2 separate regions of the Homo sapiens genome follow, and region 1 is linked to region 2. Evidence: fine-mapped expression QTL. A gene starts in region 2. The other region holds a variant in brackets. All regions are shown on one strand. Distances are between the middles of the regions.

The links. PIP is the estimated chance that this variant, and not a neighbour inherited with it, causes the effect.
Region 1: its variant is the best candidate, but not a certain one, in a credible set for the expression of SKP1 in whole blood (INTERVAL, PIP 0.63).

Annotation. Positions count from the first base shown.
Region 1 is chr5:134,123,149-134,127,663 of GRCh38, forward strand. All of the region lies in intron 3 of TCF7 (transcription factor 7), which reads left to right. Among named protein-coding and RNA genes, the nearest start is that of TCF7, 11 kb to the left of the region's middle. RefSeq lists an enhancer at 4,329-4,515. The variant G/A (reference allele first, on the strand shown) is at 2,747.
Region 2 is chr5:134,174,475-134,178,474 of GRCh38, forward strand. It overlaps SKP1 (S-phase kinase associated protein 1), which reads right to left and starts at 2,476. Exons shown (of 6, transcript NM_170679.3): 1 at 2,381-2,476. RefSeq lists enhancers at 1,857-2,136, 2,227-2,476, 3,380-3,894 and a silencer at 2,627-2,706.

The DNA.
Region 1 (4,515 bases), 51 kb before region 2:
AGGCCTCTACCAGGAGTGTGAGTGCTCCAAAAGCTGAGGTGGGACTGGGGCCTTGGCTGCACTTTCCTTTCCCAGCTCCCCTGGGGCAGTGCCCTCTGGCCTACCCTACCCTTGGGCCCTCAGCCTGTCGATAGACTACACATTCTCTGCTGTAATCTTGGGTCCATACCCCGACTGAGCCCCTTCTCTATACTTCGCCTGGCTCAGCATGTGGCGGGCTCCCTCTGCCCTTCCAGAGCTCAGTCCTGGGAGACAAAGAGACTTTCACTGGGAGCCTCTAAGTCGGCTCTGAGATTCTGCTGGAGTTGGGAAAAGGGCACAGAGGAGGGAGAGGCCAGTGGGGGCAGCAGGGGAGGCTCCTGAGAGAGGGGCCTGCACAGGTGAGAGGGGGAGAACACTCTGGGTGGGGGCCCCACTGGAACAAAGGAGGAGAGAGGCAGAGGCTGGCATGCTCCATCAGCAGAGGGGCAGACAGAGGCCCAGGGTCTACGAAGGATGTGCGGTGAGACTGGAGAAGAAGGTCCCAGCCTGTGACCTTGGTGCTGGGGCAGCGCTGGTTCCAGAGCCTGGGAGAAGCTGATGGGCGCATGCAGCATGTTGGCATCATGGTAGGGCAAGGCGGTACCCACCCACAGATGGTGTGAATTGGACATGGCGGACAAAGGCGGGGAGAGCCAGCTGCTGGGGCAGGGTGGATGCTAGGAGGCATGGGGATCATGGGAGGAACTCGAACAGAGCCAAGGGAGAGGTAGGCTTTGGGTGGAGAAGACCCAAGGGTGTTGGGCAGTGCAAGGCAGGGGTACCTCAGAGGTGAGAACTTTCCATTTTCCCATCCTTCCATTTGACCCTCATGCTCTCTCGGGGTTCGGGATCCTAGGGTCTGGCCCCCTGATTACTGAGGGGAACTCTACCCCAGAGGTCAGTGGCTCGCTCAGGTCCCAAGGCCCATTGGTGACTCAGCCAGGGTGTGGAGAGCATCTCTGACCAGCTCTGTCTCTAGCAGAGCTCCAGGGTCCCAGGGGCTTTGGCAGGGGTGGAGGGTGGGCATCTCTGAGAAACCAGGACATTGTCAGCTTCTTGGTTCAGGCAGTTTGCTGTCCTGTTTCGCAGACCTGTCATGCTTGGGGTCTGGACCTGGGAAACCGCCTTCCTCCCTTAAAAATGTGTGGCCTGCTTCTGCTGCTGCACACAAGCTGTCTACAGCCTGGGTGGGCTTGTCCTCCTCAGAGGGTTCCCCCTTCCCCTGCTTTCTGCTGGAACATGGGGCTCCTCTTGCCCAGTTCCCCAGGGAGTAGAGGGTCTCTGTCCCTTGCTGGATAGGGACTCTGGCCTGGGGTGAGCCTGAGTCTGGCCTTCTCCTGGGAGGAGGTCACCTGCCTGGGCTCTGCTAGCAGACTACTCTAGAGCCGGAGCAAGCCTGGGGACACAAAGCCCTCACCCCGCAGCCCCAACTCCATAGCTAGAACTCCCTAGAGATCAGAGGAGCAGACACTCTGCCAAATAAGCTTCCTCCTAACCCCCCCGCCCTGCCCCCCATTAAAACCACTAGCTTGCTCTTCAAGGGCAGGAAAGCTGTCTGGGCCCCACACCATGTGCTTCCAAATGATGAGTGTGCGGCAGAGGCTCCAGGCATGGATGGGCAGGACGTGGCCCCAGGGAACAGTGGGTGTGGACTTTGGGGGTTTACACGGTTAGGCCTGCCCCCACTCCACCATGTCTGAGCTGGTTTGGGTGCCAGTGGTGGCAAATCACCTCCTCCCAGGAAACCCAGTTTTCCCATGAGGGCAGGGAGCTGTGATGGGAAGGAAGCCATCCCTCCCCCTGCTGTGTGACCTCACGCAAATCTGTGAACCTCTCTAGGTCTCAGTTTCTTAAATGGGGTAGGAATCCCTGGCCATGGAGAGGCCTGTGTGCTGGGTGGGCCTCAGCCGGGGTTTGCTGGGCAGCTCCTTGCAAGCATTGCTCCAGAGCCAGCCTCCCCACCAGGCAAGAAGGGGTCATGGGGAGGGAGGGACAGGTGATGGGAGTCTAGGCCGAGGGATTCTGACTAACTCTGACCTGGCTCTGGTGGCAGCGGGCCCAGCCTCCTGGCCTGCTGGGCCGCCATCTGAAACGCATTACTGATGCTTTGTAAACTCCACATCATTTGGCCACATGAAAGCCTGGGACTTAAAAATAGCTGCTCCCAGAGGACGCCCCGCATTGGTGGGGCTCAGCTGACCTCTGCACGCACACCCACCCACCACCAGGCCACCTCCCTTGCCAGGGAGCCCCGACTGGCAGGGCCCCACCCACTCACCCTCCCAGTGTGGGCAGCCACTGCCTGGAGCCAATTTATCTGGGCACAGGTCTCACTCAGCTGGTGAAAGCTTCAGGCCCTGTGGCTGTACCCAAGGCAGAATGTCTGGGAGAGCCAGGAGGAGGCTGCTGAGGGTGAGGTGGTGGTCTCAGGACCCTTCCCCAGGCTTGTCATGCCTGGAATGCTGGTAGGAACCTTATTGGAAAGCTAGTGGAACCATCTTACAGAAGAGGACACAGTGGCCCCAAGGAGGGGGAGCACTGGGAGGGTGCTAGTCTGGTGTTTACTTGGCCACTGTCCAATGCTGGACGAGAGTCACTGCCAACATGTTTGTGAGAGTAGGGCAGGGCCTGCCCGGGAGACCCCGGTGTCCGGTGGAAAACCCGCTAAGCAGGAGGCAGGGCAGCACAGGCCTCTGAGCTGCTAGGGTTGACTCTTTGCCCTGCT[G/A]TGTGGGTTCCCTCTCCTTATGGTCTCTATGACCAACTGCAAACCACTCTTTTCCCTAAAAATAAACATGCTTATGGGACTGGGGGAAGCTTTGTAGCTATCAAAAGAAATAATAGGGTGTTTTAGAAAATTACATTGTGTTTTAAATAACCAGCATGAAAGTCATTAAGTTTGAAGTTTCATTCAAATCAGATGGCTCTGTGGCTGGCGTGGTGGCCAGGCAGGCAGAGGTGGGTGGGCCCTCTGAGATGCTGAGAGGCAGCCTGTGGAGAGCCTTGCGGCAGTGGCAGCAGTGAGGTCTCTGCTGGCTGGGTACAGCCAAGGTCCAGGCGGGCTGGCCACCGAGTGCGTGCCTGGCTGCAGCAGCCACCCCAGAGCTCGCTGGCAGCCTTTGAGGCAGTGGGCATCCCCATGGGCGGGGGTGTGGGGACAGATGAACCTGGGAGAGCCAAGGCCACAGGGTCGATGGCCATGTTGCAGGGGGTGGTGTTAGGGATGGAGTTGGGACCAGAAAGGGCCGGAGAGGATCTGTGGGGCCCAGGCCACATCTGTTCATTTCACCACTGGGTTCTCAGTGCCCACCCTAGGGCCTGGCACACAGTAGGTGCTCAGTAAGCAGTTGTTGAAAGAATAACAACAACTACAGTAGTTCATGTGTCAAGCACTTCCCAAGTGCCAGGCCTATGCCAGGGGCTTTTACTCATATCAAGATTGTACAAGTCGGTAGGGCACAGTGCCTCACGCCTGTAATCCCAGCACTTTGGGAGGCCAAGGCAGGCGGATCACGAGGTCAGGAGTTTGAGACCAGCCTGACCAACATGGTGAAACCCCGTCTCTACTAAAAATACAAAAATTAGCCGGGTGCGGTGGCACACGCCTGTAATCCCAGCTGCTCAGGAGGCTGAGGCAGGAGAATCGCATGAACCTGGGAGGCGGAGGTCACAGTGAGCCAAGATTGCACCACTGCACTCCAGCCTGGGCGACAGAGCTAGACTCTATCTCAAAAAAAAAAAAAAAGATCGTACAAGCCAAGAAAGTAGGTATTATTGTGGCCTCCCTTTTTGCAGATGGGGAAACTGAGGCTCAGAGAGGATAAGGAATGCGCTGATACCTGGCAGAGTCAGGATTTGAACTTTGGTCTGTTTTACCCTGAAACCCATGCTCCTCCCTGCTCTATCCCATTTGCTGTACAATGTGTGGAGATGGGGGCACTGCGGGCCAAGAAGCTGGGTGGTACCCCCAGCACACTGTCAGGTTCATAAGCTGGACCCAGCTGGATTCCTCTGGCCCCAGAGAAAGGCCATAGTCCTCTCACTCCCTCTCCAGGGGCACCTCATAGCTCTGGGCCTGGGTCAGGGATGACCCCTTTCCTCCCCAGACACCTGGCAAGTTCAGGGCTCCCAGGGCCAAAAGGGCTGTCTTTCTTACTTGAAAGGCAGGTGCCCAGGGCTTCTAGAAGGAATGTTATATGGAAAAGTATCCGTAAATGACATTAGGATTGATTCCGATTTGGTGCCTGATGGAAGGACAGTTAAGACCTGTCTACAGGTGGATCACTTCCTCTTTCTAGTGTTGGTCCTGATGCAGCTCAGTGCCTGCTGTTGGACTCCTGGGCCAGGCACCCTCCTCTGTGTGATCCCGGGCTGGGCTAGGGGGTTTCCTAGGCTCTGAGTCATGGGAAATGGCTGGACTGAGGCAGCTGAGGGAGTCTCAGGGTATGGGTGCGCCCGCCCACCTTATTCCCCCGTGGGAAAGCCGCTTAGGAACCA
Region 2 (4,000 bases):
TTCAGATCCAAAGAGTACATCAGAATATGCTCATTTATGTCTGAGGCAATGCAAGACCATATACAAGAGAATAAAATGATTTAAAGATAAGCAGATGTGAGTACAATTCCCTAAATCTACTTAAAAGCTTCATTTCAGAGCCCTTTTTATCTTTCAGTACTGACTGTCCAGGTGACCAACTTTGAGATCTCTTGGCAAGATCTCCATAATAATAACCTATTACTTGCTCTGAAAACGCATTTATTAATTCAGATTAATTATGAGTCGTTAGGAAAAAGATATAATCTTACATAAAAAGTTAAGCATTTAATTTCAAAGGACTTGAGTTCTGGCAAAAAAAAAAAAAAAGGCATTTAAAATTAAAAGTCCAACAATTTCTTACCATCTTCAAATTCTTTTTTTAAAAAAGAAAACATACAAACAAGGAAAACAACAACAACAAAAAGAATAGCAATACCTGGTACAGATTAATTCAAGGCCTCTTAAAACTCACATACAACTTTTAAAAGGCCCATGCTTCTCAAGTATTCATAATCCGGTGATGTCACTATTAACTTATGGCACCTCTGAAGTTTTCTAGGTGTGTTGTATTACAAATCGCATATATTTTCCCAAAAGTGTATCATTTGGCATTTAAAACATGCATCACACCCATTTTATGTTCAAAGACTTATGACCCATTACATCGGTTAAAATATTCATTCAGCTTCTCTGAGACAATTGTCGCCAACCCCAAAGCAAACAGGTTGTTAGGCAAAGGAAGCAAAAAAGTAAAGCATGTTTTAAAACCAGCCACTGAAATATCCTACTCTCACTCATCCATAGTTGGAGAGAATCAGATTTCACTTTGCGATTCACAAACATGTCTGCTTCTCCATGTTGCTTAGCGCTTGCCAATAATGCAGTTGTCCCTGCTTAATGGAGAAGGATGCAGAGTAGAGGACCCTTCCTGTGACAAGACCACAACAAAAGGTATCTCCAAAAGAAAATATTTTAACCTGAGCCCAATTTTTAATTATAAAACATTTAAACATGTAATTTTTATATTAGATAGTACTGAAATGAACAGTGCAGAATCACAAATCTAACAATGCAGTTGATTAAAATTACTCTAAAAGCAAGACGACCGTTTCATATTTCTTTCAAATAACTCAAGATAAGTGCTTAGTCATAGTCAAGTTTGTGGATTGGGTTACTCTTAAGGGAGTTGAGACCTTACTAAATAGCAGCTGGTCAATCGGTTAATCTGTAATTCGATGCACTTGGTAATACTAAACTCAAAGATAAGTTTTAGTGTTACAGTAGAATAAAGTGCAAAATTTTTAAGTAATAATGGATGAAATATTTATTTGAAATGCTTTCAAAACAATTCCATTCTAAAGAAAGAGGCCTAAAGGCTCCTGCACTTGTAAATAATTCTCCATGGCCAGCATAAAGCGGGTTCTATCACATCATATAGAAAAAAAAACCCCTGCGCTTTAAGTGACCCGAAATTCTGACACTGCTTTTTAGACTGCACAGTGGAGGAGACGGTATTGTTCTATGAAACGGATACATTCTACTGTCACGCTCTAAAGGAAAAATGCATGTCCCTAAAACCCAAACGTGAAGTTTCCATTAAAAGTGAATCAAAGCAGGTAGACGTCCTATTTCTTTAAAAGCCAGATACCTAGAGTTAAGTTATACACAGTTAAGGCTCCTACAAGTCACACCACTCTGACGATGGTATCTGCTCAACGACTCCAAGTCATGGCAAAACAACGCTAAGAAATATTCAGATGGAGCAGGCGGCTATGTGCAGAAAGCCGGCGCCCGCACACGGTTAGCCAGGACCGACCGGTAGCTAGTGACGCCAGACACGGTGGAGAAAGGATGGGAGCCAAGAACCGGGCGGCCTCAGACCACCACCGCAGCTCTCCCTCCCGACCACAACAAAAGCCAGACACCGACACACGCCCACGCTCACGACAGCCAAGGGACCCCCATTCACAACCCCGCCGCCACCCCCGCCCTGGTCCCCGGGACAGCAGGCTTAAGACCAAGAGAGGCCCCCGGCCGCAGCCTGGGCCTTGCAGCCGAGCTCCGCGCCGGCTGACGCTCGGCCGGTGCAGAGAAGGCCCAGCCCGGGGTTCGGCTCACTTATGGAGCGCCGTGAGGACGCCCGGCCAGAGGAGGCCTCGCTGAGTCGGGGGCGGGGCAGGTGAACGGAACCTGGTAGGGTCTCCCGAAGAACAGGGTCGACAACGCGATCCACCGGGCCCGAAAGAAGGCCAGGCCCAGTCACCGCCCGCCGCGGGCAGGCCCAAACCGCAGCGGTGAGGCCAGCCGGCACGCAATCCGGTAGCCACGACCCTTTCCAGTTCAGTGGGCGGCTACTCACGGTGTTCGGTGTTAAGGAGACGGCCGGCGGGAGGCTGACGAGAGCCGGGAGGCGTTAGCGAAGGAAGAGAAAAACCGAAGACGAAGCCACTACAGCGTCGCAGCGCGGCGCGGCGTCTGCTTTATAGGAGAGGGCGCAGGCGCCGAGGACCCCGGGGCGCGCGGCGTCACATCGCGGCTGGGCTGGCCGCCGAGATCGCCTGACGGCAGGCCGAGAACGGCTGGGCGGGCCCAGGCCGGGAGGCGGCAAGGAGCTGCCGGGGGCGGCTGGCCGGGGGATCGGGGGGCCGGAAGAGTTTTCGCCTCTCCCCAGCTCTGAAAGCGCCGCGCTGTCTCGTCAACTGGGTGCCGGACCCCGACTGGCCTAGAAAGGTCTTTCAGGCAGCGGTGCCCTAAGCCGAGTGAAAGACCCCAGTTAAAAAGCCTGGAAAAAACAAAACCGGGCGAGTGTGTGCGTCTCTGTGTGTGTTCCTGGGAACAACAGAACGGGGCGTGTGTGTGTGTGTTCACTCCTGGGGGGGGCTGCGTGTGTGTGTACGCGCGTGTGTTCATTCCTGAGGTGTATGTGCGCGCGCGGGTGTGTGTGTTCATTCCTGGGGTGGGGTGGGGTGGGGGTGGGGCGCTTGTGTGTGTGTGTTTTACTACTGAACTGATACAGCTTGTCCAGCTTCCATTCTCCACGGTAACCCTCCGAGGTGAAATAGTGTTAGCCTTTTCGCCTCTGCAGTGAGGGAACAGGTTCGGAACGGTTAAGTGGCAGAGCTAGGATTTGAACCTTACTCCACAATTAGGTGCTGTTAGCCCTTATTTCCTACTATTGACTTCTAAAGAGGCTTCCATGCCAAACATAGCCATCGTTATAGGGAAACCCCAAGTCTAGAGAGATGGCTCCATCTAGCAGTAGGTACCTACTCCTTCACTAAACATGCTTTGAGCCCGACGTGCGAGGCGTGGTGCTGGGGATTCCGCCGTGAACCAGGCAGCCAGGGCCCGGCCTGGACGTAACTCTTCTCTAGGGTGCTCCCAGGAAGGCTTTGATGAGGTCGATGGAATGAAGCCAGCTGTAAAGGAAAGGGAGTAGTCTGAAAGCCCCACCCTGTTCTGCTCGGGAACATTACTCTCCCCATCCTAGGAGACTGGGCGCCGGGCTCGCCTAGCCAACAGGCACGTGATGATATCCCTGACACCAGGAAGACAAAAGATACTTCCACACAGGGCCCCCTGAAGAAACCAGAGATGTACAGTGCCTCTGGGATGGGACTGGGCAGGAAGGCCAAGCAGCTCCTTGAGTTACCAGGTCTTTGTCTACAAGCCTATCCAGTGTCTGCCAGGTGCCACAGCTGATGACAGAAGATGAAACGCCTGCAGCTCTCAGACATTTTCTTTGCAGCACAGCCCTGCCCTCAGCAGCTCTAGCTTCAGGCCTCCTAGGCAGGGCCCACTGGAGCCCCTTTGCTCCCCGCCTATGGCATAGAAGGTGGTACCTTATTAACTCTCTTTAAGCATTCTAAGCAGGACTGTGCAGTGTCAGGTCACACAGCCCGGGGACCCAGCACAGGGTCTGGCATAAAAGTAGGGATATATTTTTCCAAATATGTCTGAGAACCCCCTTTATTAGAAT